Homo sapiens: one gene and its partners. The protein of the gene in region 1 purifies or fractionates together with the protein of each later gene. This does not show direct contact. Each region holds a gene or a part of one and is shown in the gene's direction. Other genes may lie near its edges.

What was found.
Region 2: the proteins of CSTF3 (region 1) and FAIM fractionate together in Homo sapiens (co-fractionation; one large-scale study listed by BioGRID). This does not show direct contact.
Region 3: the proteins of CSTF3 (region 1) and P4HA2 purify together in Homo sapiens (co-immunoprecipitation; one large-scale study listed by IntAct). This does not show direct contact.
Region 4: the proteins of CSTF3 (region 1) and PAPOLB fractionate together in Homo sapiens (co-fractionation; one large-scale study listed by BioGRID). This does not show direct contact.
Region 5: the proteins of CSTF3 (region 1) and UNC13D fractionate together in Homo sapiens (co-fractionation; one large-scale study listed by BioGRID). This does not show direct contact.

The regions. Positions count from the first base shown.
Region 1 is NC_000011.10:33,102,239-33,106,325, reverse strand, and holds part of CSTF3 (cleavage stimulation factor subunit 3), read left to right. Parts: intron 1-261; coding exon 262-328; intron 329-408; coding exon 409-443; intron 444-632; coding exon 633-759; intron 760-3,141; coding exon 3,142-3,219; intron 3,220-3,986; coding exon 3,987-4,087. UniProt on the Homo sapiens protein: One of the multiple factors required for polyadenylation and 3'-end cleavage of mammalian pre-mRNAs.
Region 2 is NC_000003.12:138,628,791-138,632,877, forward strand, and holds part of FAIM (fas apoptotic inhibitory molecule 1), read left to right. Parts: intron 1-316; coding exon 317-366; intron 367-4,087. UniProt on the Homo sapiens protein: Plays a role as an inducible effector molecule that mediates Fas resistance produced by surface Ig engagement in B cells.
Region 3 is NC_000005.10:132,221,233-132,225,319, reverse strand, and holds part of P4HA2 (prolyl 4-hydroxylase subunit alpha-2 isoform 2 precursor), read left to right. Parts: intron 1-4,087. UniProt on the Homo sapiens protein: Catalyzes the post-translational formation of 4-hydroxyproline in -Xaa-Pro-Gly- sequences in collagens and other proteins.
Region 4 is NC_000007.14:4,858,882-4,863,617, reverse strand, and holds the start of PAPOLB (poly(A) polymerase beta), read left to right. Parts: upstream 1-1,587; 5' UTR 1,588-1,807; coding exon 1,808-3,721; 3' UTR 3,722-4,736.
Region 5 is NC_000017.11:75,837,318-75,841,404, reverse strand, and holds part of UNC13D (protein unc-13 homolog D), read left to right. Parts: intron 1-403; coding exon 404-448; intron 449-574; coding exon 575-643; intron 644-828; coding exon 829-898; intron 899-1,075; coding exon 1,076-1,180; intron 1,181-1,294; coding exon 1,295-1,387; intron 1,388-1,462; coding exon 1,463-1,566; intron 1,567-4,087. UniProt on the Homo sapiens protein: Plays a role in cytotoxic granule exocytosis in lymphocytes. Required for both granule maturation and granule docking and priming at the immunologic synapse.

The DNA.
Region 1 (4,087 bases):
TCCCACCTCAGCCTTCCGAGTAGCTAGGATTACAGGTGCACGCCACCATGCCCAGCTAATTTTTTTAATTTTTATTTTTTTAGAGACTGGGTTTTGCTATGTTGCACAGGCAGGTCTTGAATTCCTGGTCTCAAGTGATCCTTCTGCCTCGGCCTCCCAAAGCAGTGGGATTACAGGCATGAGCCACCATGTCTGGCCTAATTGTAGATAAATTTTAATAACAAAAAAATTTAAAAACCACGTCTTTCATGTTCATTTCAGAGAAAAAATGGCTCAAGCATATGACTTTGCACTGGATAAAATTGGAATGGAAATTATGTCCTATCAGGTAGAGTTAAAACTTTTTAATGTATGCACTTAAATGTAAGAATACCAAGAAAGATATTAACATTTCATTTTATTTCTTAGATTTGGGTGGATTACATCAATTTCCTAAAAGGCGTGTAAGTATTTGTATAGTTTTTTTTTACATCTACAGTTGATTTAGCTAAAATATAATTTTTAGTTCTTTGAGAAATCTCCATACTATTTTCCATAGAGTTGTTCTTTGGGTAGATATCCAGTAGTGAGATTGCTGGGTTGAATGAGATTTGGTTATAATATAATTGATGGCATTTCTTATCCAATCTCAGGGAAGCTGTAGGATCTTATGCAGAAAATCAAAGAATAACAGCTGTCCGAAGAGTTTATCAACGAGGTTGTGTTAATCCGATGATCAACATTGAACAGCTCTGGAGAGACTATAACAAGTATGAAGAGGTAAATTAGGTCAGAGTAGTTGTTTATTATAAACCAAGCCATTTTAATTTCTATGCATTGTGGATTTGTAGATTATAGCCTTTCTGTATCAGTGTTACACTTTTTTTATTGATTGTAATGAAAGCACTATAATGTTTTTGCAAGGTTTGAGAGTCTCCATATAGTGTTATTTTTTAGAGGATACTCTGAAGAACAATAGTTCTTATAAAACTATTTTTATTCTTTGCTAAGCCATATCCACACATTCATACACACACATACACATTGTCATTGACCTATAAAACAGTACCTTTTGGGAATTATGTTTCCAATAGTACCTTTTGGGAATTATTTTTTGGTTGCTGTGCACCTTTTTCACCTGATTACAGTGATGTGATGATTGGTTTGAATTTGTGAAGTGTGTGGCTACAATCCAAGATCTTTGTGTTATTGGTATCTACTTTTAATAACTGAGCTAATCAATCTGAATACATAAATACACATGCCAAATAAGCTCTAGCATTAAAAGGAAGTTCCTTGGCTGGGCATGGTGGCTTACACTTGTAATCCCAGCACTTTGGGAGGCCGAGATGGAAGGATTGCCTGAGCCCAGTAGTTTGAGACCAGCCTGGGCAAGATGGTGAGAGCCCGTCTCTAAAGAGAAAAAAAGAAAGTTTTTCGTATGTATATTGTGATTTGGAAGAACTATATAGGGTAGTGAAATTGTTCCCTCACAGGCATCAGCTGTGGTTTTCAAACTTTATGGTTTTTGGATTTTAACAGTTATTGAAGATCACAAAGAATTTTTTGTTTTTATTTTTTTGAGACAGGGTCTTACTCTGTCACCGAGGCTGGAATGCAGTGGCACAATCACAGCTCATTGCAGTCTCAACTTCCTGGGCTCAGGTGATTCTCCCACCTCAGCCTCCCAGGTAGCTAAGACTACAGGCATGCCCCACCACTCTCAAGCTAATTTTTTGTAGAGATGGGGTTTCTCCATGTTGCTCAGGCTGGCCTTGAACTCCTGAGCTCAAGCAATTAGCCCGCCTCGGCCTCCCAAAATGTTGGGATTACAGGCACGAGCCACCATGCCTGGCCAAAAACTGTATTTTCCAAAACAAAAAATGTAGTGTGTAGTGAGAAGAGTGGCATTGTTTTATATTTTCACAAATCTCTTTCATATCTAGTGTAATAGAAAACAGCTGGATTTTCATATCTGCTTCCATTTAGTGTGTTATAATACTAAATGTCACGTAGCCTCTGTAAAACTCCTGTATTTTATGAGAGAGGCAAATAATGTCTTAGTGTTATAATGACAACTATTTTGATCTCATGGACTCCCTGAAAGGGTCTTAGAATCCTTGGAGTACTCACTGAGTGGTAATGTTTATCTTTCCTTGCTACTTCTGTTTGTCTTTTTAAAAAGTGTTATACAACAGAACTAGTTAGAAAAGGGCTATTAGCCAGGTGTGATGGCTAATGCCTGTAATCCCAGCACTTTGGGAGGCTGAAGTGGGAGGATTGCCTGAGGCCAGGAGTTTGAGGCCAGCCCAGGCAACATAGCAAGACTATGTCTCAACAAAAAAAATTTTTTTAATTAGCCAGATCTGGCAGGGCACACCTGTAGTCCTATGTCTGAGGCAAGAGGATTACTTGAGCCCAGGAGTTCAAGGTTCCAGTGAGTTAGGATGGCACCACTGCACTGTAGCCTGGGTGACAGAGGAAGACTCTGTTTATAAAAAAGAAAAAGAAAAGGGCTATCAAAGTCAAGCCATGGCTATTCACCCAGATGAATCTGTACATATTTTTTTTTTCTTTGAGACAGAGTCTCGCTCTGTCGCCCAGGCTGGAGTGCAATAGCATGATCTCAGCTCACTGCAACCTCTGCCTCGCCATTTCAAGCAATTCTCCTGCCTCAAGCTCCCAAGTAGCTGGGATTACAGGCGCACACCACCACACCCAGCTAATTTTTTTGTATTTTTAGTAGAAACGGGGTTTCACCATGTTGGCCAGGCTGGTCATGAACTCCTGACCTCAAGTGATCCACCCAACTCGGCCTCCCAAAGTGCTAAGATTACAGGCATGAGCCATGTCATTTTTTTTTCAGTAGAATCTTATATGAAATTATTGAGCCTTTTCAAATGATTCTATCTTTAAAAGTTCCTGATAAATGGAAACTTACTGCCAGCTCATAAGACATAAGCACATCCTCCTTGATCTTGGAAATGTATAATGTGATTGAACCTTTTTTCCCTGCTTTTCATGAGCTGTATGAACCTTTATTAAACAAGAAATCTTTTAAAATAAAAATTTAAAGTTATTTAGTAAATGAATAAATTAACTGTATTGTACTAATTTTTAAGAAACTATACTTAATTTTAAAATATTTTTGTTTTTTTCTAGGGTATCAATATTCATTTAGCTAAAAAAATGATTGAAGATCGGAGTAGAGATTATATGAATGCTAGACGTGTAGCAAAGGTATGGAATTCCATCAGGCTATTTTAATGATTATTATGAGTCTGTTGTTTACAGCAGAGCTTTCCCTGTCTGGTATTACTCTTGATATTTTCAGTCATTAGCAATCTTAACAGCAATTAATTGCAAAGTCTGAGGAGATGACATATTTGAAATGAAATCTCTCTTTGTAAGAACAAAATATAATAAATTGGGTTTAGAAGAAATTGTTTTTTAAAATATGGAAACAGAAGACATAGAGAGAGACAAGGCTCTACTTAGAATTGATGAAGTAATTCTTTTCCCTCTATTATTTGGGTTCATCTGAATATTGTATTACTCTGTGGTCTAATAACATAGCTCTCAGGGACACATTTTGATTGTGTGCATACCTTTCCATTCATTGACACTCTTGGAAGTTAGGAAAAATAGCCTATTAATACAAACTATTGAAATTTTAAAAGACAGTTTCTCCAAAGATGGCAATAATAATGCCACCAGATCTTCAATCCTATTGATCTGTCAACTCTTACATCCTGGAAAGTAACCTCCTAGATCACTTACAGAGAGGGCCCATGGGTGTTTTGTTTACCCACTCCTGGGAACCTGTTCTTGAGTGGGTAATACTCTTATCTTTCTCTCTACTCTTAAATAGTTTTTAGATTATATTAACAAAGTGGTATTTGGAAAAAGTAGGCATCTTGAACAGTCTTCCAAACTGATCTACCCCATCCGCCATATATCTCAGTTGTTCCTGGCTCACCAAAGAATTCTAAATCCTTGTTGTCTAGGAATATGAGACAGTAATGAAAGGCTTGGACCGTAATGCTCCCTCGGTGCCTCCTCAGAATACTCCTCAAGAAGCTCAACAAGTAGATATGTGGAAGAAATA
Region 2 (4,087 bases), on another chromosome or scaffold:
TCCTTCTTTAAAGATTGTCCTTTTGGATTCATTTTGTTTCATAAGGCTTCATCAATTTGTATTAAGACCATAACTTTCTCTTAAAAGGTTGTTTTGTTTCATTATAGTTTTATGAACAAAGAACAAACACAGCTTCTTCAAATTTTAGGAGAGTCTGCAAGCCATGAAAGCCATGAAAAAGTGTTGGGTTTTGGAATATTAATGGAGTTTTAGAGATCTGGTATATCAATCCTTTCCTAAAGTAATAAATAGGAAAAGTTAACTTTATCTTTAAATCACAGAATTATAACTTAAAGTTTTTATGTTACCTTTACAGAAAAAGATGCTATGGACGTATGGTGCAATGGTAAAAAATTGGAGACAGCGGTAAGTTGACTATTTGATGACTCTAAGTGCCATGTGTCTCAGTTACCATTGAATTGTTGCTGCATTTCCTAATTATAGAGATCTTATAATGAATCAAGGCCCTCTTGATAAAAACAAAAAAGGGATTAAGTACTCCTGACTTCAGATTCTGAAAACCTTTGCCAGATGGTGCCTGGTACCGTGAGTTTGGAAACAACTCATGTTCTTAGCTGGCACTAGCTTCATACTCTCCCTTTCCTGTCCTGGACCAGGCTCCAGCATAGCAAGTAAAATACCTAAAAAGAGCCCCTAGTTAAAAAATTATATCCCCAGAGGTTGGTGTCCTCTTGTGTTGATCCATTTGAAGTGGTGCGTTATCACTGCTTCTCAAACTTGCATGCACAGAAATTGCCTGGAATCTTGTTAAAATGCTAATTCTAACATTTCCCTAGGTGCTGCTAATGCTACTGGTCCACAGATCACACTTTAGGAATGCTTTACACCATACACTCAAAGCAGATGGTTCTTTTCTGAAAGCGAGATTTTTGTAAAATGAGTGATACAATATCAGATGACACGAAGGTAGACGAACAGGAAAGGGCACTCTCACGAACCCCGGAGGACAAGTGGAATTTTAGACCAGCAGTGCCAATGCGAGGAGAAAGAGGCTCCCCCAGTCACTGTGGCCAGGCACACTGAAATCCCCATCTAGATAGACTCCAGTGTGTTTGACTTTTGCTATCAGGTGCTTGGATTACTATGGCTGTGGATGGGATGAATGTAGGAGTGAATTTCAAGCAGGAGTGAAACAGTAGTAGTGTGCACAGGGGAGAGAGTGGGAAACAGAAAGTGTGGGACTAGGAGCCGAAATCACTGGGTGGTAATCCCCATGTCTTATGGGGTCTGTGGGCCAAGCAGGGAGTGCTATCCCTGGGACCCACCTTTCATGCTGGCTCCAGATGTGAACATCAGGGCTAGAGATAATCGGAAGCTCTCTTCTCTGGTCACATTTTGCATGTTGTAGTTGCTTTTATCTCATTTGTATAGTATAGGTTTAAGACAGTGAGAAAAGGTGATTTTGGTAGTTGGAGGAAAGGAGGTCTGGGATTAATTCATTCAGAAGACCACCTAGAACCTACTTGGTCTGATAGCTGTTTCTGAGGAGGTGACAAAACCAGAAATCAAAAATTACAAAGATGAAGCCACACGTGGTAGCACAGGTCTGTAGTGGCTTCCTACTTGGGAGGCTGACGTGAGAGGGACCCTTGAGCCTAGGAGTTTTAGGCCAGCCTGAGCAACATAGTGAGACCCATCTCTAAAAAAATTAATCAATCAATTGAAATTTAAAAGTTACGAAGATGAATGCTTTTCTGTTTCTGAGTCCTGAAGAATTTAATTTGGGCTCACTCTAAATTGAGTGCTTGAGCTGTTCTCTGGGTTAAATCTACTGATAGAGACTTCTTTTATGCAGAGAGGCTTGGAGAGTGCTTCAGTATTTTATGGCCCCCTTTGGAAAAACTCCAGTTACCACTAACATGGATCAGATACCTACTGTGTGCCCAATGCCATACCTGGTGGTTCTTCCTGTTCTTTTTTTCCTACCCTGGAATTCTCTAGATAGGGAATCAGCACTTTTGAATTGCATTTCCTCCCATATTCAAGAAATTCTCCAGTGCACATGTAAAGAGAATGCTGTTTTATGGTATTAAGAATATGGTTGTACTGGGCGAGGTGACTCATGCATGTAATCCCAGCACTTTGGGAGGCTGAGGCGGGCAGATTGCTTGAACCTAGGAGTTAGAGACTAGTCTGGGTGACATGGCGAAACCCCTCTCTACTAAAAATACAAAAATTAATAGAGCATGGTGGCACATGCCTATAGTCCCAGCTACTCAGGAGGCTGAGGTGGAAGAATTACCTGAGCCCAGGGAGATTGAGGCTGCAGTGAGCCAAGGTTGCACCACGGCACTCCAGCCTCGGTAACAGAATGTGAGACCCTGTCTCAAAAAAAAAAAAAAAAATGCAGTTGTAACTTTGGGAGGCCAAGATGGGAGGATCATTTGAGGCCAGGAGCTCATGACCATCCTGGGCAACATGATGAGGCCCTATCTCTATAAATTTTTTTTTTTAAGTTAGCTGTGTATGGTGGTGTGTACCTGGTCCCCGCTGCTCAGGAGGCTGAGGCAGGAGGACTGCTTGAGCCCAGGAGTTCAAGGCTGCAATGAACTACAGTTGTACCCCTGTACTCCAGCCTGGGTGGCAAGAGCAAGACCCTGTCACACACATACACAAGGAATGTTGTTGTGGTTGTAAAAAGGTGAAAATAATATTCATCCACATGTCTTTGTTTTGTAGTAATTAACAGGAAACTACATGTGTTTGGAAATAGCTCTTTATAACACAGTTGCCTTCTCATTGTAACTACAACCTAGTTTGCAGGGCAGTTTGGGCAGCCCCATATCTAGGCAGCCTTCCCCAGTACTGTACGTACCCACAACAAACTCATCTTGTTGCCTGTGAGTTACAGCTTATTTTCTCCTTTTTATCTCAAAGCATCGTGCCAAAATTATATATTTGTCCAATTGCCAAGAAGCTACGTATATAGATTGTATTACCTAACCCTTGCCCTTTCTTCCGAAGTCTTTTTTCAAGGCTCAATATTAAAAATGGGGACAAGAACACACTGCACCCAAGGACATGCTTGTGGTATTCAGCATACCTCCCATAAGGAGCCACGGGCCACATCCTTCCCAGAGCTAGGAAAAGGCTTCTCTCCCTGAGGCATCCTGTGCCTTCTTTGGCTTGGTTTGTTAACTGGGGGGCCTTGTTCTATCTACTTTGGCTGCCAGGAAGCTAATAGCCAGGGGGTTTAAGTCTGATTTTTGGTTTCTTTGCTTTCTGGCATAAATCTTTTTTTTATCCTCTAAGCCTCTTCTTTCTTCCTTCCTTCTCTGCGCTACCTGGCGCTAATCTTTTTACTCTAGATCACTGCTACTCAATCAAAGCATAATATGAGGCACAGATAGGACCTTCATGTGTAATTTTAATTTATCTAGTATCCATATTTGAAAAAATTTTAGGTGAAGTTAAATATTATATTTGATTTAAATCAATATACCAAAAATAGTATTTAACATGTAATCAGTATAAAAAGTTATTTTATACATTTTTTTGTTTCATACTAGGTCTTCTAAATCCAGTGTCTATTTTATATTTAAACAGCATATCTATTTTCAGACTAGTCAATTTGAAGTGCCCAATAGCCACATGTGGCCAGTGGCTACTGTATTGAACAGAACAGGTATAGATTTAGTGGTGTTTGGTTTTGTTATATGTATATTTTACTGTAAGCCACCTTATACCCAGAGGAATCAGATTTTCAGAGTGGCTAAGAACACTCCATCCCTGGCTGGATGCAGTGGCTCACACCTGTAATCCCAGCACTGTGGGAGGCTAAGGTGGGTAGATCACTTGAGGTATATTATAAATAACTAATAAATGTCATATTTATCATTTTTATTTTTGAAAACATAGACACATAGTCATGAGGTTTATATTCCTCCCCCAAGAATTTAAGATTCTTAAGGATTGTAGGGGTTATGAAAAGGAAACTTTCAATTCATAACAGAAATGTAAAAGCATCTAAGTACAAGCTTTAGACTTTGTTTTTCAAAGCTTATTGTTTAACTAATACATTATTTTATTGCACTACTAGTACTTTTAGATGGTGTGAATGCTCTAG
Region 3 (4,087 bases), on another chromosome or scaffold:
TGGGGTCTGTCAAGAGTTTACTATTATGCAGATGGAAGTTGGCAGGAAAAGCTGTGATGCAAGTACATGCAAGCCCAGCAGAGTGCTGGAGTGAGAGTTAAACTTCGGGAAAGTTGCTCACATCTAGCAATTTGGACATTTGAAGTTCCTTAGGGTAAGACATCAGCCTGTCCTAGAGCAAAGAGGGCTGGAAGGTCCTGTGGTCTGTGGGCTTTGTGTTACGGACATGGAATGAGAGATAGAAAGACAGTTTTTTTTTTTTTTTTTTTTCCTCAGAGCAGAGGAGAATGAAAAGTCTGGATGATTTACTGGAGCCCTAGAAGAGAGTTCTTGTTCAGCTGGTGTCATTGCAGGGCAGAGGATTAAGTGTTTGGGTAGAGTGCTCTCCAGCTCAGATGGAATCTATCTGAGCCTGGTAACAGGCCAGCATCTGCTCTGGACCTTTCAGGAAGTGCTTGCTTAGAGTGTGGCCTGTTTTGTACCTGGCACTCTGAGGGCCAGGGTGTAGTGGAGATCCTCAGGCCTGGGTACTTGTAGGAGCCTGGAATGAGCAGGTCAGAGGCATATAAGTACATGAGTTCCTAGAGTATTGGTCCAATCCCCCGCCTTTTGCTAGAGAACATTGCTTGATGAGCTTTAGAGCCAGTGATTGACCAGTTCCAGGGTTATCCCCTGATGATCAATGTACTACATTATACCTGATTCCAGTCTCTCCTGAATTAAATGTTTCATTTCTTGTGGTGCTCCTGGAACATGGAGATCGCCCAATTTCTGCCTTGTTTGCATCTTCACTGTTCCCTAGTCTGGACCTTCTTTCTCACCCAGGAATCAGCTGACTTGGGCTGGGCAGCTGGCTGCCTCAGGTCCACTGATGTTTCTCTGGTGCCCTTGGTACTAATGATTGACATAAATTATGCCTAGTGCAGGGCTACCTGCCAACATCTGTCATCACATTCAGTCCTCCAACAGCCCTATGAGATATAGGTCCTAGTATTGTCTCTATTATATACATGGGGAAACTGAGGAATCCTATAACTTGTCCAAGGTCACAAAGCCGGGAAGTGGTATAGAATTGGGGTTTAACTCTTAGTATGTCTGACCCTAGGGCAGGTGTGCCTGTCCATTTGACTGTACTGCCTTGCCCTGAGCTGGACTGGCTGGTTATTTGTGAGTGCTGTCATGTCTAAGGTAGGAGTGACTGCCCATCTGAACTTAAGGGACCATGTTGCTGTTTTCTGGGTCCATGTTGCGTTCCTCCCTCTGGTGAGATCCAGCCAGGCGTGTCATGGACCTGCTTTATGAACCTTTGGTGTAACCCATGATAAAGTCCTTAACCTGGGCAGGCATGTTCTTCCTGGGCAAAGTGTGGCTTCCCTGTTTGGGAGTCCATTGCACTTTAAGGTAACAGATTATTGAGTAGGACTGGATAGCTGCAATATCTAGCAGAGTGTGTTTTGGGTTTGACTCTTGGTTCTGTCATTGATTTGCTGTCAGATGTCAGATATGTAGGAAACCTTCTCTCAGCCTCAGCTGTTTGTCATTTGTATCTATCTTATATCTGAAATGGAGGTAGTTATCTAGCTTAGAAGGTTTGGGTGAGAATTAGATAGTAGAAATGAAAGATTTTTGGAAACAAATAGTGCTTATCTCAGACTATGTTCCCAGGAAACAGCCTGAGACAGAGCTTAAGTACTTAATGCTTTATTGGAAGGTGTAATTGCAGGGCAGCCAGGGTGAGGGAAAACAAAAGTGAGGTGCAGGCCTGTGCGATGGCTCATGCCTATAATCCCAGCACTTTGGGAGGTCGAGATGGATGGATTGCCTGAGGTCAGGAGTTTAAGACCAGCTGGCCAATATGGTGAAACCCCATCTCTACTAAAAATACAAAAATTAGCTGGGCATGGTGGCACACACCTGTAGTCCAAGCTACTCAGGAGGCTGAGGCAGGAGAATCCCTTGAACCTGGGAAGTGGAGGTTGCATTGAGCCAATATTGTGCCACTGCACTCCAGCCTGGGCGACAGAGCGAGACTGTCTCAAAAAAACAAAAGAAAAAAGTGAGGTATAAAGGAGGATGGGAGGTGGTGTTTTAGCAAGCTGGCTACTCTGCACAGAGATGTACTTGGTTACCCTATGAGGGCCCTTTGGTAGCCACTGGGGAGGCCAGTCTGGTACTTCAACAGAGTCTGGAGATAGTGAGAGGAGCCAGAGATTCTGGCGTGGGCCTGGATAGTCTCCTCCACTGGGCTGAGGCAAAGTAAATACCCTGGGACCTGGGAGATGGGTGAGACCAAGAGGTTGCAAGGTGGGACGTAAGATGCATCCAATATAGTGGTATATGGATTTTATCCTCAAGTGTAGTTCCCTTTTGTGGGTTAGTCTCATCCAGACTGCCAAGTCTCTGCCAAGACTATGACTGAAAACCCAACTTGGCTTTTGCATGTCAGTTTTAACAGCCTTCTCTGCTACTTCATTGTCTAGTTACTGAAGCAAGACTTTGTGGTGGTGATGGTACCCAGGTGGGGAAGTGGAAGTCAACCACTATTCATGTACCAGACTGAGAAAGTATGTGGATAGATACAGATAAACATCTTGGCTTTATTAGGTTCTTCGTGAAGGAGAATATTTTTTCACATAAAGTAGTTGTTGAAGATACGAAACCTGGCATGGTGAGATGAGGCTAGAGAGGGCAGTAGGGCCTGGTCACACACTCAAAAGGACCCTTTGGGCTAAAGAGTTTGAACTTTATCTTGACGGCAGTAGAGAGCCAAAGGAGGGCTTTGATAAACCATGCTGGCTACTTTGTAGAGCAGAGGTGGGAGGAAGGCCAGATGACATGTGGAGAGGCCAGTGTAGTGGGGGCCAGGATGCCTGTAGGGGAAGTTAGGGGTGGCTCAGATCAGGGTGATGACTGAGGCTAAGGAGAGTAGGGTACCCCCCATACTTGCCTAGGGTGCCGTGGCAGCAGCTTATAGGCCTGAATGGACATCCATGTGCTTTGGTGGCAGGGTCTCCTGGAGCCTCTGGATCCTCTTAGGCTGAACACACAGGTCCTTTCAGCCCTGTTATCCTAGAGTTGGAGGCAGCGGGGAGCCGTGTCCAGTTAGGTTTTCCCCCTTCACAGAAGGCAGGCAGGTTCTTGTTCAGTGCCAAGCAAGACCAGTTTGTTCTCAGCAAGCTCATGTTCTGTCTCTAGGCTGTTAAATACATTGTTAAAACTCAGGCTGTTGCATTTGGGTTGCAGCTGGGAGCTTGGCAGAGATTCTGCCTGATGAGGTAAGGAGAGAAGCTAAGGACGCTGCTGGTTTGCAGCTGGAAACATCTTTTCATGGCCATTTGGCCAGATTGTAAATGTCTTTTCCAAAGTTCAGGTTTGGTGGGACCTCTGGTTGTATGTCTTGGAATTGCCCTGTGTTTAGAAACAGTGCCAGTCGCCTGATGGGTGAATCACTGTTGCTGGGATGTTGGCAGGTTTTGCAGGACTTTCCTGTGGGGGTCCAAACACTAGGGCTGGCAGGGCCCGTTTGGAGTCTGTTTGAGAAGGGCCTGCTTTGTTTTCTTTACATTTTAAGCATATGATAAAATAATTTTAAAAATTGCTATAGAATTTCTTGTAGAAAGATTAGAGAAACAAGCATAAAAATAAAAAGAAATTATTTCACCAAGATATAGCCAGATGTATGACTCTTTTCTTGCATCTCTCTATATACACATATACATTAATTTTTCCTTACAAAAATGGAATTATAGAGTGCATATTATTGGGGCCCACTTTTCTCACTTAACAGTATGCTTAGATCTCTTCATGTTGATATATAGTATTCATTTTTAATATACTCCATAAAAACTCATTGTATAGAAGAAATGTAAAATCTTCTATTGTTGTAGTTTCCTAATTTGAACAAGTCTGTGGTGAAGTATTTTTTGTTGTGTTCCTGGTATGGGACAGACATTGTTCTAAACTCTGGGGATGCAGCACAGATAAAACTCAGTATTGGTTTTCTGCTCAAGATGTCACTTTGTTTTTCATAAAAGTGGGTTTGACATTGTTCACCTCCAGACTTATTCCAGTTGGATTCTGAGGGTTT
Region 4 (4,736 bases), on another chromosome or scaffold:
TACATGTATTTGGGGTTCAAAGTTGCACCATCTAGATGTTGTGGATAATCCCTGGATAAGAAATTACACTGACTGCAATTCTATAGTGTACAAGAACATCTACTGGAAACAAAGCAAATCCTCTTTGGAAGGACACAGCGTCTACACAGGCATTCCAAGCTTCACCAGAAATGAGCTCACAATCCAAAATTACAAGACCCAAGAGGTAATACCACTCTGAGTTCTTGGATAACAACAAACTATACAGTTTCTCAAGAGCATTCGGAATTAGAATAATTAGTTATAGAGTACTAAATAAGTATGTTTAACACGTTTAAAGAAATAAAAGGTAGGGGGAAAAACATGAAAGAACAGAATGCCATCTAAAAGGCAGAGAAGCTTGGAAAAGAACAAAATAGTGAAATATAAGTATTTAAGTGGATATTTCAATGATGCTTAAACAGCAGACTAAATACAACTGAAGAGAGGACTTGGAGGTAATCTGGCATCACCCAGAAAGACACACGGCTTAAGAGACATGGAGGACAGAGTGAGAAGGTTGACAACGTGTCTAGATGAAGAGAATCAGGAGACAAGTGGGAGAACATATTCCCAGGAAGTGCCCAAGAAGCTTCTGGAGATCATAAAAAGCATGACTTCTGATTCGGGAATCATAGTGTATCCTGGGTAAGATTATATTTTTTATTTTTTATTTTTATTTTTAATTTTATTTTTTTTTTTGAGACAGAGTTTCACTCTTGTTGCCCAGGCTGGAGTGCAATGGTGTGATCTTGGCTCACCGCAACCTCTGCCTCTCAGGTTCAAGCAATTCTCCTGCCTCAGCCTCCCGAGTAGCTGGGATTACAGGCATGCACCACCACGCCCGGCTAATTTTGTATTTTTAGTAGTGACGGGGTTTCTCCATGTTGAGGCTGGTCTCCAACTCCTGACCTCAGGTGATCTGCCCGCCTCGGCCTCCCATAGTGCTGGGATTACAGGCGTGAGCCACTGCGCCCAGCCTGGGTAAGATTATTAAAGAGAAATCTATGCCTGGACACACAGTGGTGGGATCACAGGGCACTAGGGACAGACACTTTTATAGCTGCCATAAGAAAAGACAGACGAGCAGTAGTTCACCTAGCTGCGGAATTCTCAACGGGAACCAGAGGACAGCAGTATCGCGCCCTTAAAGCATGGCCAGAACACAAATGTCGACCTCGAAATGCTGCCCCAGCTAAACCAATGTCCAGCAACGGCCCAAGAAACAAGACAGAAGCTGCTTTCCACCGCGGGTTCCCACCACGAAGGGGTCTTTGGACTTCCAAAGGGTGCACGCTAGGGTGAAGAGTGCTGAGGGTGCCCCCAAAAAGGATGCACATCTGCGATGTCAAGGGACTTGGAGAGCAAAGAATTAGATGGGTAAAGTTGGGCAAATATGTAAAATAGTGGCAATAAAGGGTTGAGTTTGGCCGGTCATCAACAACGTGAATCCTGCCCACCCCCATGTATAGCCCCCCGCGCAGCGGTAGGAGCCCCAGCCCAGAACGCTGTGGCTCCCGTGAGCCCTCGCGCTGGCGGCGGGTGCGCAGGCGCCCGCGCGTGTACGGTAGGTTCTGGAACGCAGCCGCTGAGGGGTCTGGCGCCATGTTGGGGCTGAGGGGAAGGAGGAGAAGCTCCTGAAGCGGCGGGCGCGCAGCGGGAGTGGGAGTGGGGTCGGACCAGGGCAGCTAGAAGCCCTGCCCTTCCGCCTCAGCGGATCATGACCCGGGCGGCGGCCGCGAAGGTCGCGGTGGTGGGGGACGTGCCCTGGCGGGGCGGGCGCTGAAAGATGATGCCGTTTCCGGTGACAACCCAGGGACCACCGCAGCCGGCGCCGCCGCCGAATCGCTACGGCGTCTCCTCGCCTATCAGTCTAGCGGTCCCCAAGGAGACGGACTGCCTCCTCACCCAGAGGCTAATAGAAACCCTCAGGCCCTTCGGGGTCTTCGAAGAGGAAGAGGAACTGCAGCGCAGGATTTTAGTTTTGGAAAAATTAAATAATCTGGTAAAGGAATGGATACGCGAAATCAGTGAAAGCAAGAGTCTTCCCCAGTCTGTAATTGAAAACGTTGGAGGAAAGATTTTTACGTTTGGCTCTTACAGATTAGGAGTACATACGAAAGGCGCAGATATTGACGCCTTGTGCGTTGCACCAAGTCATGTGGATCGAAGCGACTTTTTCACCTCATTCTATGCTAAACTGAAACTACAGGAGGAAGTGAAAGATTTAAGGGCTGTCGAGGAGGCATTTGTGCCAGTTATCAAACTGTGTTTTGATGGGATAGAGATTGATATTTTATTTGCAAGATTAGCACTACAGACTATTCCAGAAGATTTGGACTTAAGAGATGACAGTCTACTTAAAAATTTAGACATTAGATGCATAAGAAGCCTTAATGGTTGCCGGGTAACCGATGAAATTTTACATCTAGTGCCAAACATTGACAACTTCAGGCTGACTCTGAGAGCCATCAAACTGTGGGCCAAGTGCCACAATATCTATTCCAATATATTAGGTTTCCTCGGAGGTGTTTCCTGGGCCATGCTAGTAGCAAGAACTTGTCAGCTTTATCCAAATGCAGTAGCGTCAACTCTTGTACGGAAATTCTTCTTGGTATTTTCAGAATGGGAATGGCCAAACCCAGTGTTACTGAAGGAGCCTGAAGAACGGAATCTTAATTTGCCTGTATGGGACCCAAGAGTAAATCCCAGTGATAGGTACCATCTTATGCCTATCATCACACCAGCATACCCACAGCAGAACTCCACATACAACGTGTCTATTTCAACCAGGATGGTCATGATTGAGGAGTTTAAACAGGGGCTTGCTATCACACACGAGATTTTGCTAAGTAAGGCAGAGTGGTCCAAACTCTTTGAAGCTCCAAGCTTCTTTCAAAAGTACAAGCATTATATTGTACTTCTGGCAAGTGCATCAACAGAAAAACAACATTTAGAATGGGTGGGCTTGGTGGAATCAAAGATCCGAATCCTGGTTGGGAGCTTGGAGAAGAATGAATTTATTACACTGGCACATGTGAATCCACAGTCATTTCCAGCACCCAAAGAAAATCCTGATATGGAAGAATTTCGTACAATGTGGGTGATTGGGTTAGGGCTAAAAAAGCCAGATAATTCTGAAATTCTCAGCATTGATCTCACCTATGATATCCAGTCTTTCACAGATACTGTTTATAGGCAAGCAGTGAATAGTAAGATGTTTGAGATGGGTATGAAAATTACTGCAATGCATTTAAGAAGAAAGGAACTTCACCAGCTGCTGCCTCATCATGTGCTTCAGGACAAGAAAGCACACTCAACAGAAGGTAGAAGATTGACAGATTTGAACGACAGCAGCTTTGACTTGTCTGCAGGCTGTGAAAACAGCATGTCTGTGCCTTCATCTACTAGCACTATGAAGACAGGCCCATTGATTAGCAGTTCTCAGGGTAGAAACAGTCCTGCCTTGGCTGTAATGACAGCATCTGTGGCTAACATACAGGCTACTGAATTTTCCTTGCAACAGGTGAATACCAATGAAAGTTCAGGGGTTGCATTAAACGAAAGTATTCCTCACGCTGTCTCTCAGCCTGCCATTTCTCCATCACCAAAGGCCATGGTCGCCAGAGTTGTTTCTTCAACATGTCTCATAAGCCATCCAGACCTTCAGGAAACTCAGCAACAAACATATCTAATCCTATAGTTGGAGTCTAGAGGATATTCTTGCCTCATAAAGAAGAAAGGACCAAGAAAACCAAAACGGAAGAGGAGAAACTCAATACAAAGACAAGTACAACTCCATTAGAAAAATTCAGACAGCATCTTCTCTATTGGCCTCTCAGGGAACATCAGTATAGATCTTTCCGGTATCCCTGTTCTCCCTGCAAATCCAATTCCTGTTATCAAGAATTCAGTAAAACAGGTTGAATGGTTAAAAACAACCTCAAGGGTCCATGAACAATATCTGCCAACTGAACCTGTTGTCTTCAAATACTAAGGAAGGAGAATGAGGGGTACGGGACTAGATATGACTTGAAATAGATTGAGGCTCATTTGGTAACTTCCTTTACTGAGCCAGTCTTGATCAGAAGTCCACATTAGTATGTGACAGCTAGAGGTACTGTTATTAATGTATCAGCAACAGTTACATTAACTATTTCAAAGGACTACTGCCCTTAAAATGAAAAAACCTTTCAGCTATGTTTGTACCCGTGACTGACATCTGGACTGGATTTATGCTTGATGCATTGTTGGGAAAATATGCAATACAAACTGGTATCAGAATTCCTTATACTGATGAGGCACTTTATATTTTTTATTAGAAAGTAGAACTAATTTTAGATTTTTCAAATTGGTGAATTTTATTTTTCCCTGAAGAGGTTTCTTCACTATTAATCTTAAAATTGGATACCATTGTGCAGCGGTGTACTGTACTTCAGAGAAAGCATAAAAGTACATCTAGCTCAGTCCCTATGAGGTAGCTGTAACCCTTTAAAATGAAATGTCAACTTTAAGGTATGTTTTTGACATCAACCATTAGTAGGTCTTTGGTTTTGATGGCACACTATGGAGAAAGGACACACTGGTTTTAATCTGTAGAACTGTTTTAGAGTAATTAGCAATCAAACATTTTCTTTGAGCTATCAAAGCTCCATATTCTCTTGTCCTCAATCATTAGTCCTAAAACAAAAAAGCTTTTTGCCTCCCTCTCTTCTCTT
Region 5 (4,087 bases), on another chromosome or scaffold:
TTGGGAGGCCTAGGCGGGCGGATCACGAGGTCAGAAGCTCAAGACCAGTGTGGCCAACACAGTGAAACCCCGTCTCTACTAAAAATACAAAAATTAGCCAGGTGTGGTGGCGGGCACCTGTAATCCCAGCTACTTGGAAGGCTGAGGCAGGAAAATTGCTTGAACCCAGGAGGCAGAGGTTGCAGTGAGTTAGATCCTGCCACTGCACTCCTCCAGCCTGGGGGACAGAACTAGACTCCATCTCAAAAAAAAAAAAAAAAAAAAAAAAAGGGATGCGGCTGGGAGGAGGGAAGTTTGGCAGGGATAGGCTACAACTCCATGGCTCTGGGCTGTGGTCACTTACTGCTTCGTCTGGGGGCATCCACCCTCCAGGGCCCTCAACCACGCCCTTTTCTCCATACAGGGAGTTTGAGGACATCACCAATGCGAGCTTTCATCTGGACATGTGGTGAGTGACCTGGCCTGCCCCTAGGGATGGGAAGGGAAGGGATCTGGGGTGAGAGAGGCGGAACCTCCTCCTGGAAGAGGTCGTAGGCACTCTCTCTGCTTCCTTCTCAAACCTCTGTCCTGCCAGGGACCTGGACACTGTGGAGTCTGTCCGACAGAAGCTTGGGGAGCTCACGGATCTGCATGGGCTTCGCAGGTTCGTGTTGCAGGGCTCACAGGGAAGGGGTTGGGGCTCCTTTTGCCCTCCATCCCCCAACATGCACACTGGATGCTGGGGTGCAGGCTCCTTTGGGGTCCAGGTGGCTGCGGCCGGGGGTGGATTCCAGCCTAATCCCTTCCGACCCTTGCTGCGTCCCCCTTATGGGACCCTGCCTGACGCAGGATCTTTAAAGAGGCCCGGAAGGACAAAGGCCAGGACGACTTTCTGGGGAACGTGGTTCTGAGGCTGCAGGTGAGGAGGATGAGGAAAGGGGCCCAGGAGCGAGGCAGAGGGAGGGGGTTGGGAGGGGTTCTGGGGAGAGGCTCTGTGTCCTCACAAAGCTGAGCCTGGGGTCCACCTCCTGTCGCCTCCGCTGCCCCGACTCTATGAGGTTCTGACGCTCACGGGCTGGGCATCCCCGCCTGTCAGGACCTGCGCTGCCGAGAGGACCAGTGGTACCCCCTGGAACCCCGCACTGAGACCTACCCAGACCGAGGCCAGTGCCACCTCCAGTTCCAACTCATCCATAAGCGGGTAGGTCGGGTACTGGGCCAGTGGCCATGCCCAGCTCTTGCGGCGGTCTGCTGGGTTGCGGGGCTGGCTGCACCCAGTGTGAGGCCCTGTCTGCTCACAGAGGCCTCATTGCAGAGAGCCACTTCGGCCAGCCGCTCGCAGCCGAGCTACACCGTGCACCTCCACCTCCTGCAGCAGCTTGTGTCCCACGAGGTCACCCAGCACGAGGTATTGCCCTCCTGGGGCTGGGCGCAGCCGGGGCTGCCCTTCAGGTCCTGACACTCCTCCACCTGCTCCCCTCAGGCGGGAAGCACCTCCTGGGACGGGTCGCTGAGTCCCCAGGCTGCCACCGTCCTCTTTCTGCACGCCACACAGAAGGACCTATCCGACTTCCACCAGTCCATGGCGTGAGTACACAGCCCTGGGCAGAACCCCTGAGCCACCAGCCCCCCACGCCCCCTGCCCTCCTCCAAGCCGGTAGCCCAAAGTGTAATTCTCAGCAGAGTTCCCTTTGGCCCAAAATGTGTGTTTTAAGTTTTGAATCAGTTGCCAATTTTAAAAAGTCTAGAGATTCGGCTGATGCGGTGGCTCACTCCTGTAATCCCAGGACTTTGGGAGGCTGAGGCAGGAGGATCACTTGAGCCCAGGATTTCAAGGCTGCAGTGAGCTATGATCACACCAACACTCCTGCCCGGATCACAGAGTGAGACCTCATTTCCAAAAAATATTAGAAAAAGCTATCTGGAGATTTGACATACCATCCAGATCTCCAGCTTCTCATGAAACACAAGTGCTGGAACTGCAGGGTCATCATTTTGCTGCTTTTTTTTTTTTTTTTTGAAACGGAGTTTCACCCTTGTTGCCCAGGCTGGAGTGGAATGGTGCAATCTTGACTCACTGCATGCAACCTCTGCCTTCCAGGTTCAAGTGATTCTCCTGCCTCAGCCTCCCGAGTAGCTGGGATTACAGGCATGCGCCACCACGCCCAGCTAACTTTGTATTTTTAGTAGAGACGGGGTTTCTCCATGTTGGTCAAGCTGGTCTCCAACTCCCGACCTCAGGTGATCTGCCTGCCTTGGCCTCTCAAAGTGCTGAGATTATAGGCATGAGCCACTGCACCGAGCCATTTTGCTGCTTTTTTTTTTTGAGACAGAGTCTTGCTCTTTCGCCCAGGCCGGAGTGCAGTGGCACGATCTTGGCTCACTGCAGGCTCCGCCTCCTGGGTTCACGCCATTCTCCTGCCTCAGCCTCCCGAGTAGCTGGGACTACAGGCGCCAGCCACCGCGCCCGGCTAATTTTTTGTATTTTTAGTAGAGATGGGGTTTCACCGTGTTAGCCAGGATGGTCTCGATCTCCTGACCTCATGATCCGCCCGCCTTGGCCTCCCAAAGTGCTGGGATTATAGGCGCGTGCCACCGCGCCCAGCCTTTGCTGCTTTTTTGAGTGGACAGAGCGGAGCGATGTGTGTGCCTCTGCCCATCATGGCTGCCATTGGGCCCACTTCAGTTGCTTTCGTCTCCTGAGTCCTGGGCATTTGAATTTGGACCCGGTCCCTAACCCCAGCCCCGCTTCCCAATGCCATAGCCTTCAACTCAGCAAAACTACGCGCTGATAAGGACAAATCTATGTTGAGGGCAACTCACGTCAAGTCCTAGGAATGCCGGGGAGGGCACAGGGGGTCACAGCCATTCCAGTGCATGTGAGTAGGGCAGAGATGGGACATAGCCGGCCGGGCACGGTGGCTCGCGCCTGGAATCCCAGCACTTTGGGAGGCCGAGACAGGCAGATCACTTGAAGTCAGGAGTTTGAGACCAGCCTGGCCAACATGGTGAAATCCTGTCTCTACAAAATATAGAAAAATTAGTCAGGTGTGGGGGCGCATGTCTGTAATCCCAGCTACTCGGGAGGGTGAGGCACGAGAATCACTTGAACCCGGGAGGTGGAGGTTGCAGTGACCTGAGATCACACCACTGCACTCCAGCCTGGGCGACACAGCGAGGCTCTGTCTCAAAAAAAAAAAAAAAGAGATGGGACACAGCCAAGTGCTGGCCAGGGGAGGAACAGGAGCAGGATGCCGACTCAGGCCTGGGCTGTGACTTGGAGTCTGAGTGGGAGGCGGAGGGAGCCCAGGGGAGTGCATTTCTGGGCTGGGGTCAGCTTGTGTACTGCTAGGACCTCAGGCAGGTGGGTGATTCGGAGACAAGGGTGGAATGGTGGTGCGGCTGGAGACTGGAGCAGGCACCAGATGGGGAGGGACCTGGTTTGCCTGCAGGGCCCAAGCACAGTAATGCAGGTGGCTGCAGTGTCCAATAGGGACTTCGGCCTGTCCCCAGGCTGCTCCTCTCCCCCATCCTCTGCCCTCCCACGGGACCTCGTTTGTGTGATATCCCCCCAAACCATCTGAAAGGAAGTTCTCACTGATGCTTGCCACATGTGCACGAAGGCTCAGGTTCATAGATCCTATTTTTCTTTTCTTTTCTTTTTTTTTTTTGAGCTGGAGTTTCCCTCTTGTCGCCCAGGCTGGAGTGCCATGGCACAATCTCAGCTCACTGCAACTTCTGCCTCCCAGGTTCAAGTGATTCTCTTGTCTCAGCCTCCCAAGTAGCTGGGACTACAGGTGCCTGCCATCACACCTGGCTAAATTTTGTATTTTTGGTAGAGATGGGGTTTCACTATGTTGGCCAGGCTGGTCTCAAACTCCTGACCTCAGGTGATCCACCCGCCTCGGCCTCCAAAAGTCCTGGGATTACAGGTGTGAGCCACTGTGCCCAGCTAATCCAATTTTTCAAAAACAGCAAGAAATCCTGAAGTTTTAAAATCACAAAGATCTCAATCTGGGCAATTTGAAAAGCATCTATGGAAACAAAGAAAAAAAATCCTGGCTGGTCACAGTGACTCATGTCTGTAATCCCAGAACTTTGGGAGGCC